Regions from separate parts of the Homo sapiens genome. Here region 2 is linked to region 1. The links come from fine-mapping of genetic effects on gene expression. A gene starts in region 1. The other region holds a variant in brackets. All regions are shown on one strand. Distances are from middle to middle.

Region 1 (5,363 bases):
GTTCACGGGGGTCATCAGGGATAGGACATTCATGGGAGCCACATCGGGCTATGTGTCTGATTCACCCCAGGGTGCACTATTGAGGGTTGGGGAGATGAGAGGAGATACTTGGGGGACAATGAAGTGTCCCCATTCTTTGGATGATGGGGATCTTGGCCTCAGGGTGAGATCCTTCTTGCAGGGTCTCTGGCAGGCACAGAGCCCGGGGGCTCTTGCATAGCACATGTGTATTTCTGGAGGCTTCCCCTTCAGTCTCACCGCCCGGATGGCACAGAATTGGTTGTAGTTGTGGAATCGGAGGTGGCTGCGCGGCGGCAGTGCAGGCTCACACATCACAGCCTGAGCCCGCCCCAGCTGGGGTTCGCCCGTGGAAACATCCCAGGTCATCCAAGCCGGGCGCCACAGGGTTCACAGGGGTCGTGAGGTATAGGACACTCATGGGAGCCATATCGGGCTACGTGTCTGATTCACCCCAGGGTGCACTGTTGAAGGTTGGGGAGATGGGAGGAGATACTAGGGGAACAATGAGGTGTCCCAGTTCCATGGATGATGGGGATCTCGGCCCTAGTGTGAAACCCTTCTCGCAGGGTCTCTGGCAGGCACAGAGCCCGGGGGCTCTTGCATAGCACATGGGTATTTCTGGAGGCTTCTCCTTCGGTCTCACCGCCTGGATGGCACGGAATTGGTTGTAGTTGTGGAATCGGAAGTGGCCGCGCGGCGGCAGTGCAGGCTCACACATCACAGCCCGAGCCCGCCCCAACTGGGGTTCGCCCGTGGAAACGTCCCGGGTCACCCAAGCCACGCGTCGCAGGGTTCACGGGGGTCATCTGGGAATAGGACACTCATGGGAGCCGCACCAGATCTTCAGGTCGGGCATTATCCACAGCCCCGTGGCCCCGGGTCACACTCCGAGGGCTTCAGTGTCATGGCCTGGGACTCAAGTCACGCCTACTTATGTGATGATCACAGTGTGTTCCACCAAAATCTTACATTTTCCACATCTATCCCAGAGCACAGCTCCGACTCCGTCTAAGGACAGCCCCCAAATCCCCAGCCTTTTACTGAACTGACAATTGCCTCCCCAGTGAACACTCTGATCTCCTCAGCCCTAAGTGGCCAGACATTAACATTCTCATTCAATGCAGGTTTGAGGTGCTAATTCAGGAGCTTAAGATGCTAAAGAGCTGGGAGCGCCACTGCTGCTTTATTCTCTGGTCCAGGATCCTTGTGTTGCTGGAGATAATCCATTATCGTGGGTGCAGCAGACACCCTGCGGCTTGTGGACTCGGTACGGGGTGGGGATCCTGATGGGGTTAGGATGTTCGATGGCTCGGGTGTGCTCCACGCTCAGGGATCATCACGTCCGGCCGGCGGTAGTTGGCACGTGGAGAGGTGAATTTGCCCACAGGTGTTCCCCGTGCCTGCGCATTGCTGGCAGCACGACCGGATCCTGTGCTAGCCCCTCCCACAATGCCTGGAGCAGGAGCGAGGGGCCTGGGGAGCCGCCTTGCCTGGAGCATTTGTATTTCCGGAGTATTTCCTGAGTCTCCCCTTGGGTCTTGGGTGCTGTCCCCAGTGAGCCCATCTCCCAGCGATGGCACAGAATCGGTTGTGGCTGTGGAGACGGAAATGGCCGAGAGGCGGCAGTGGTGACTCACATCACAGTCTGAAGGTGACCCAAGGCTGGACTCCACTTTTAGCAAAATGTGGGGGTCTGCCTTGGTCTCCTAACTTGGGGGTCCACTCATGGAAAAGCCTGAGAATTTTCATGCCATGGAAATTCCCCCATGTCGTGGGGTTCACGCACGACAAAGCCCGGCGGTCAGTGCTCAGCAGGCAAGCACTCAGCCCTTTCCGGTGGGGCCATGGGAACAGAGGGTTTGCCGAAGGCGCGGCCAGCCCTTCCACATCCCAGAGGGCCTGCTGGGTGATTGGACCCGTGAACTCTGGGTCCCTTGGCCCTGGTGCTCCCCTTCACGGCTTTGACACTCGAGACTTGAGGTGAACCCCAGGGACTGCAGGGCCCCAACAACCCTCACCAAAGGCCAAGGTGGTGACCGACGGACCCACAGCGGGGTGGCTGGGGGAGTCGAAACTCGCCAGTCTCCACTCCACTCCCAACCGTGGTGCCCCACGCGGGCCTGGGAGAGTCTGTGAGGCCGCCCACCGCTTGTCAGTAGAGTGCGCCCGCGAGCCGTAAGCACAGCCCGGCAACATGCGGTCTTCAGACAGGAAAGTGGCCGCGAATGGGACCGGGGTGCCCAGCGGCTGTGGGGACTCTGTCCTGCGGAAACCGCGGTGACCAGCACAAGCTCGGTCAACTGGATGGGAATCGGCCTGGGGGGCTGGCACCGCGCCCACCAGGGGGTTTGCGGCACTTCCCTCTGCCCCTCAGCACCCCACCCCTACTCTCCAGGAACGTGAGGTCTGAGCCGTGATGGTGGCAGGAAGGGGCCCTCTGTGCCATCCGAGTCCCCAGGGACCCGCAGCTGGCCCCCAGCCATGTGCAAAGTATGTGCAGGGCGCTGGCAGGCAGGGAGCAGCAGGCATGGTGTCCCCTGAGGGGAGACAGTGGTCTGGGAGGGAGAAGTCCTGGACCCTGAGGGAGGTGATGGGGCAATGCTCAGCCCTGTCTCCGGATGCCAAAGGAGGGGTGCGGGGAGGCCGTCTTTGGAGAATTCCAGGATGGGTGCTGGGTGAGAGAGACGTGTGCTGGAACTGTCCAGGGCGGAGGTGGGCCCTGCGGGGGCCCTCGGGAGGGCCCTGCTCTGATTGGCCGGCAGGGCAGGGGCGGGAATTCTGGGCGGGGCCACCCCAGTTAGAAAAAGCCCGGGCTAGGACCGAGGAGCAGGGTGAGGGAGGGGGTGGGATGGGTGGGGGGTAACGGGGGAAACTGGGGAAGTGGGGAACCGAGGGGCAACCAGGGGAAGATGGGGTGCTGGAGGAGAGCTTGTGGGAGCCAAGGAGCACCTTGGACATCTGGAGTCTGGCAGGAGTGATGACGGGTGGAGGGGCTAGCTCGAGGCAGGGCTGGTGGGGCCTGAGGCCAGTGAGGAGTGTGGAGTAGGCGCCCAGGCATCGTGCAGACAGGGCGACATCAGCTGGGGACGATGGGCCTGAGCTAGGGCTGGAAAGAAGGGGGAGCCAGGCATTCATCCCGGTCACTTTTGGTTACAGGACGTGGCAGCTGGTTGGACGAGGGGAGCTGGTGGGCAGGGTTTGATCCCAGGGCCTGGGCAACGGAGGTGTAGCTGGCAGCAGCGGGCAGGTGAGGACCCCATCTGCCGGGCAGGTGAGTCCCTTCCCTCCCCAGGCCTCGCTTCCCCAGCCTTCTGAAAGAAGGAGGTTTAGGGGATCGAGGGCTGGCGGGGAGAAGCAGACACCCTCCCAGCAGAGGGGCAGGATGGGGGCAGGAGAGTTAGCAAAGGTGACATCTTCTCGGGGGGAGCCGAGACTGCGCAAGGCTGGGGGGTTATGGGCCCGTTCCAGGCAGAAAGAGCAAGAGGGCAGGGAGGGAGCACAGGGGTGGCCAGCGTAGGGTCCAGCACGTGGGGTGGTACCCCAGGCCTGGGTCAGACAGGGACATGGCAGGGGACACAGGACAGAGGGGTCCCCAGCTGCCACCTCACCCACCGCAATTCATTTAGTAGCAGGCACAGGGGCAGCTCCGGCACGGCTTTCTCAGGCCTATGCCGGAGCCTCGAGGGCTGGAGAGCGGGAAGACAGGCAGTGCTCGGGGAGTTGCAGCAGGACGTCACCAGGAGGGCGAAGCGGCCACGGGAGGGGGGCCCCGGGACATTGCGCAGCAAGGAGGCTGCAGGGGCTCGGCCTGCGGGCGCCGGTCCCACGAGGCACTGCGGCCCAGGGTCTGGTGCGGAGAGGGCCCACAGTGGACTTGGTGACGCTGTATGCCCTCACCGCTCAGCCCCTGGGGCTGGCTTGGCAGACAGTACAGCATCCAGGGGAGTCAAGGGCATGGGGCGAGACCAGACTAGGCGAGGCGGGCGGGGCGGAGTGAATGAGCTCTCAGGAGGGAGGATGGTGCAGGCAGGGGTGAGGAGCGCAGCGGGCGGCGAGCGGGAGGCACTGGCCTCCAGAGCCCGTGGCCAAGGCGGGCCTCGCGGGCGGCGACGGAGCCGGGATCGGTGCCTCAGCGTTCGGGCTGGAGACGAGGGTGAGTTTTTCCCCCTCTGCCACCCTCAGCCCCCACCCGCCCCTCCCCACACAACCAACACGTTCTCCCCACACGACTCTCTCGTTCTCCCCACAGCCAGGTCTCCAGCTGGGGTGGACGTGCCCACCAGCTGCCGAAGGCCAAGACGCCAGGTCCGGTGGACGTGACAAGCAGGACATGACATGGTCCGGTGTGACGGCGAGGACAGAGGAGGCGCGTCCGGCCTTCCTGGTGAGCGTGTCTGCCCTCCCTGCGTCAGGACGCGGCCCTGCCCAGACCGCCCCGCCGGGCCACCATCTCACTGCCCCGACCTCTGTCTTCTACAGAACACCTTAGGCTGGTGGGGCTGCGGCAAGAAGCGGGTCTGTTTCTTTACTTCCTCCACGGAGTCGGCACACTATGGCTGCCCTCTGGGCTCCCAGAACCCACAACATGAAAGGTGAGGGGCTTCCTGCCACACTTGGGGTGGGGGGCACGCGAGAGGAGCTGAGTGGGACCTCACTCCTTCCCCATCCACAGAAATGGTGCTACCCAGCTCAAGCCTGGGCCTTTGAATCCGGACACAAAACCCTCTAGCTTGGAAATGAATATGCTGCACTTTACAACCACTGCACTACCTGACTCAGGAATCGGCTCTGGAAGGTGAGCACCAGCGCTCCTTCCGGAAGCCTCCAGGCCCCCGAGCACCCTGCCCCCATCCCACCCACGTGTCGCTATCTCTAGGTGAAGCTAGAGGAACCAGACCTCATCAGCCCAACATCAAAGACACCATCGGAACAGCAGCGCCCGCAGCACCCACCCCGCACCGGCGACTCCATCTTCATGGCCACCCCCTGCGGCGGACGGTTGACCACCAGCCACCACATCATCCCAGAGCTGAGCTCCTCCAGCGGGATGACGCCGTCCCCACCACCTCCCTCTTCTTCTTTTTCATCCTTCTGTCTCTTTGTTTCTGAGCTTTCCTGTCTTTCCTTTTTTCTGAGAGATTCAAAGCCTCCACGACTCTGTTTCCCCCGTCCCTTCTGAATTTAATTTGCACTAAGTCATTTGCACTGGTTGGAGTTGTGGAGACGGCCTTGAGTCTCAGTACGAGTGTGCGTGAGTGTGAGCCACCTTGGCAAGTGCCTGTGCAGGGCCCGGCCGCCCTCCATCTGGGCCGGGTGACTGGGCGCCGGCTGTGTGCCCGAGG
Region 2 (5,363 bases), 330 kb after region 1:
CCCCTACCCCCAGTTCTGTTTCTCTGGAGACCCCGACTCAGCTACTGTGATCCCAGGGAAAGGGAGCCTCAGAGAAAGGAACCCTGTGTCCACCGGGCTTTCTCTCCAGGGATTTGCTGACACCTCCACTGTGCATGGCTGGGGTGAGAAGCCAGGCAGAAAACAGCTGCTTCGAGGCCAGAATTACAGGTAAAGAGTTCAGCATCCTCCCCTTTGTGGGGGAACTGTGGAGCACGAGGCCTTCCAACGAGAGGCCCTGGCGTCAGCACAGACCACGAGAGGGCTGGGCTCAGGATCAGCGCCACTGAAGGACCCTGCCTGCATGGAGGCGCGTGATCCAATGTTCTTTCCTTGCTGGCAGCAGAAAATGTTACTGGCTCCGAAGGAAGATGACAACATCCTGCCTCTTTGCTGAAGTACGTGCACAGCATCCAATGCACCCAGGACCTCTCAGGGCGCCAGACCCTGGCTCTGTGCTTCGGTTGCGTGACTCGGGCAAGCTTCTCATTTCTCCCGCCTTAGTCTCCTCTCACCTCACAGGGCTGTCATGAGGCATGCTGGGCACATGCAGCTCACAGAGAAGGGCTGGCTTCCTCCTTGCACCCTCGCTTCCCTCCTTCCTCTCTCCAGCAGGCAGGCTGATTGTGGAGATGTCTCCTGGGCAGCATGCGTCAGCAGGGATTTCATGGGGACGGTGAGAATTAGCATCCACTCTTGCGGGCGTCAAGTCACTGAAGGACAAATCCCCGGAGGCAGAGGAGGCTGTCACCCTTTCCCCAGGACTCCACATCTGTGGCTGCTGGTCCCCCAAAACCCTGAGAGTTAATAATCCATGCCTGACCTAGGGCAATGGAACGAGGTCTTATCAGGAAAAGCAGGCAGGTCCTCTGCCTTCCTAAAAATTAATGTTTTATCATCAGACTATGAACATGATAATTTTTAAATCTCGATGCTGGAGATCACAGGAAAACATTCTCTCAGGGGCAACATGGAAATCGCTGCTTTGCACAGGGTGACCCAGCCCACACTGTCAATCTGGTGAACTCCCTCACTCTACAAAGCCCACCTCAAATCCCCCCTGCTCTCTGCACAGAAAGCCGCAAATTGTTTCCTGCAATAAAGAGCCTGACTCCGTTTTTATGATGTTTGACGGCTCACTGCTTTGACACCTCACCCATCCCTCTTCCCGTGTGCCCCACAGCAGGGCAGGTGTCTTTGGTGCCAGTGAGAGGCTCAAGCCCTGCAGGCTCCTGCCCATGTGAGGCCATCACCCCACCCCCGAGGCATAAGAAGAGCCCCACGCCAGCTCCCTTCCTGAAGCCACCGTGCACCCCGTGAAAGCCCAGCTAGGTAAGTACCAGACCCTTTCATCTCGTCCCGGTGTGTGGGGGCGTCTTCAGGGTTGACGGAGGAACCACATTTGGGTGGGGTCCCTCCTCTTTTTCCAGAGTGACCACAGCACTCCACTATTTCTTCTTTTCTTTCTTATTTATTTATTTATTTATTTATTTTTTTGAGATGGAGTCTCAGTCTGTTGCCCAGGCTGGAGTTCAGTGGTGCTATCTCTACTCACTGCAGCCTCTGCCTCCTGGGCTCAAGTGATCCTCCCACGTCAGCCTCCCGAGTAGCTGGGACTACAGGCACACGCCACCACACCCGGCTAATTTCTGTGTTTTCAGTAGAGATGGGGTTTCACCATGTTGCCCAGGCTGGTCTCGAACTCCTGACCTCAAGTGATCCATCCGCCTCGGCCTCCCAAAGTGCTGGGATTACAGGCGTGAGCCGCCGCGCCCGGCCAGCACTCTCCAATTTCTGATCCAACTGCATTGTCATACAGAAATCACACCTTGATCGTGTTTACAGACTCATTTCTACGCATAGATACATGTCTCTGATTCCATGCACTGCAACGGTCATTGCATTTAAAAAAGAGGCAAACGCCAAGTCTCCCAGCGCCTTGGAAGACTCAGCCTCTGGGGGCTCCATGGTTTCTGCTTGAAAGGCCGATGGCTGCTTTGCAGAGAACCAGTCCTGAGACTCATACCTTTCTATTCCGATGAGAGAACATTTCTGCACAAGAACCTAGGTCAGGGTTCATGTGTCTGTCCCTTGCGTTCTGCAAAGGACCGGATCATAAATGGTGCAGCTCTGGGGGCCACCCGGGCCCTATGGAAGGAACTTGTCCCTGCCGTCGTGGGGGATGCAGCTGCACATGGCCTGTGGACGTGCTCCAGGAAGGCGCCTGCGGGGGTGGCTGTGAACTCCCGCTGTCCCCAGCACATTCCCTGTTGACACATCCTGGCTGGGAGATGTCTCCACAATCAGCCTG[C/T]GTGCTCCGAAGTGAGGGGGAGAGGGGAAGGAGGGAGGTGAGGGGGCAAGGAGGAAGCCATCACTTCTCTATGAGCTGCGTGTGCCCAGCAGGCCTTGTGACAGCGCTGTGAGGTCGTGCACGTGAGAAGAGACTGAGGCGGGAGAAATGAGAAATAAAAACTGAACATGAGTTCAATTCATCTTGCGTTTCCTTCAGGACAAAATGTGAATTTCATGTCAGTAGTTTGTGCAACCAAGTCCTCTTTGTCCTGTGACTTTTATTCAGGCACTGAACAGTGTAAACTGATTCACACCTTCTGGGCTGCACCACCACAGGGGCCAGCAGGCCTGGGTCCCCCCACCCACCTGGAGTGAGGGGTGCAGTTAGGCCGGCCGGGCATGGTCCCTGCAATCAAGTCTCTAGAGCGGGGGTGACGGCCACGGGGCCTGAAAAGCGGTTCCATAGTGTCTGCAGCTTCTGAGCACTGAGGGATGAGCCCACACACGCATCACAAAACAGCCACAGTGACCTGACCCACACTGTCCAGACGATGGGGCCACATAGGATTCCCACAGTGGGAGATGCTGACCTGGACAAGAGAGGGCAAGGGACAGAAGCTCCCAAGACCCAAGGTAGGGCCCTGCGGGCAAAATGGCCAAGAGCCGCCTTGCACCGCAAATGGGCCCTGAGGTCCAGGGCTGCAGGAGCAGGGTGGGGAGCCCGGCCAGATGGAGGGGCAGACACCGGCACCCGCTGCCTACGTCACCGCCCTCAGTGCCGCCCACAAGCGGGTGCCCCACTGGGTCCCGCCACCCCAAATCCCAGTACCAGAGCCGGGCCCGGCTCTGCCACCCCTGCCACCCTGTGTGGCACCCAGGCCCTGCTGGCACAAGGCCACGGCTAATCTGCTCTCAGAGGAAGCTGAGGAGGCAGCCCTGCCCTCGGTGTTTCCCAAGCCCCCTTATCCCAGCAGATTCTTCTCGGGGAAGATAAGCTCCCAGCTTAGCCAGGGCGGGTGGGAAGTCAGAGCTGCTTCCTTAATTGGCATTTTCCAGTTGAGAGCACATTCTCTACCTTTTTCACTTGGATCAGCTAATTGCCAAATGTTTTCATTTTTGAGAAGAAGTAAAATTGCAGAGATTTGGGATTTAGGGAAGGAATGCAAGGATCAATTTTGCCTAATTACGAAATGTCTCGGCGGTCACTGTGACGGGTCCCAGAGTCGGCCGTGTGGACCCCGGGGCCTCCCGGGCGGTGGGGGGCCGGGGGCTCTGATGCAGATGTTTACCTGATGTCGTGGGCCTGAATCTGGTTTACATTGGAAATCAGACTGTTTACAGGCCAGCACATCTGCCTCTTCCTCTGGCTCTCCTTCATTCTGCTGTAATGTTCTGCAGGTCTCGCTGGGGTCTCTGTGGGAATATCTGTGACACGGAGTGAGCCAGGCCAGCCCGGGGCGGCCCCATCCGGGGACAGCAGCTCACGGCCTGGCCCCGCGTGCGCAGCCGGGGCCTGGGTTGGCGGTGGAGATGGGGAGGGTCTGGGGCCCCTGGGTGGGTGGTGGGGGTACCGTCAGCCCGGCTGCAGGGTTCCAGCGGAGGACAGGGAGCCTTCTCCATCCCTGAAAACCATCGCGGGGACAGTGGACTCATCAGGATGCCGGGACCCTCTAGTGTGTTCTGGAAGCAGAGGCTGGGTGTGGGCACGGGAACCTGTGATTGTCCCCAGACACCGAGAGGTCCACAGGACCCCCAGTGCCCAGACCCCGGCTGCAGATCGGGGGGTCCAGTCATGTGTCGGGGAAGGAGGAGAGGAGCAGGGGCCACAGACAGGGGGTCCAGGAGGGCAGGGGGTCCTGGAGGGCAGGGGGTCTAGGAGGGCAGAGGGTCCAGGAGGACAGGGGGTCCAGGAGGGCAGGGGGTCCAGGAGGGCAGAGCCACAGCAGGCTGGGTGCTGCTGCTACAGGGGGCTTCACCCCAGCAGCCCCCTGCACTGCCCCTCTGACAGCCTCCACCTTTGACCCCCCAGAACAACGGGCTGCTGTGGCGGCTCTGGAGGCTGCGGCCCCAGTCATGGGGCCTGCGGCTGCCATGGGCTGAGACCCTGCTGCTCTTCGTGGAGACACTGATGTCCTTACCAGATCTCCCGGGCCCGCCCTCAGCCTCCAGGCTGACCAGGCTTCCTGGGCCTCCTAGGACACAGCCCTGGGTCTCCTCCTCTAGGATACTGGATGGGAATCTGCGGCTTCCAACATCCACCTGCCGGCCTTTCCCTCTGCCCTGTCCCCTTGCTGCCATGGCCGCCTTTGTCCTCCCTGGAGATTCAGAGAGCAGCCCCGTTCTCAGTTACCTGGCCTTCTGGGTCCTTGGGAGGTTCTGACCTCTTCCCAGCAGGGGCCCTGGGGGCTGCGTCCTGCCTGGTCCAGGCCTTCTCACCCTCACCTCCCTCTGGGCTCAGGGAGCTGGGGCCACACAGCCCAAAGAGGCTGGTCTGCCCGGGACAGGCCACCCTCCTCCTACCAGTGCCCTCCCTCCTCCGGCAGCCACGCTACCTGCCCTTCCTCCCCACCTGCAAAGCCTCCTGCCAAGCCTGACACCTGGGGATTCTGTCTCCCACACTCCAGGGGCCTCCTCCACATGTCAGTGACCTCTGACCGCTGTTTCAGACCCACAGCTCTTGGGTGCACTCAGCCTTGGGTCCCGATGGCACCAGAGTGTTCCACGCCTGGGGCAGCACACTCACTGCAGATCTGGCCTGAGACTCAGCAGCCGGGCACCCCATGAGATCTACTTTCTGAATGGCGTCGTCACCTGACTGGGCATACAGGCCACGGACCCCATGGTCATTTGGGCACTGACCCCTCTCACACCCCCCAAATCCCACCTGAGAGCAGCCCATCAGGCAGGCCCCATATATTGGATGCCTCTAAGTATCAGCCTTGATGTCCCTCTAATTCCAGCCCTGGTGTCTTCTCCCTGGGACACCCTGCTGCTCCCTCTAGCTGTGCCCTCCACGGTGACTCCAGACATGCGGATTCAGCCTCTTCGCTCCA

Evidence for each region. PIP is the estimated chance that this variant, and not a neighbour inherited with it, causes the effect.
Region 2: its variant is fine-mapped to the expression of H19 in lung (TOPMed, PIP 0.97).

Annotation. Positions count from the first base shown.
Region 1 is chr11:1,995,329-2,000,691 of GRCh38, reverse strand. It overlaps H19 (H19 imprinted maternally expressed transcript), which reads left to right and starts at 2,850. Exons shown (of 5, transcript NR_002196.3): 1 at 2,850-4,174; 2 at 4,271-4,405; 3 at 4,501-4,613; 4 at 4,694-4,816; 5 at 4,898-5,363. MIR675 (microRNA 675) reads left to right here and starts at 3,861; the gene lies at 3,861-3,933. It also overlaps a transcript of MRPL23 not described here. RefSeq lists enhancers at 795-1,641, 1,642-2,490, 2,491-3,338.
Region 2 is chr11:1,665,062-1,670,424 of GRCh38, reverse strand. It overlaps FAM99A (family with sequence similarity 99 member A), which reads right to left and starts at 4,826. Exons shown (of 3, transcript NR_026643.1): 1 at 4,661-4,826; 2 at 3,882-3,990; 3 at 2,569-3,723. The variant C/T (reference allele first, on the strand shown) is at 2,330.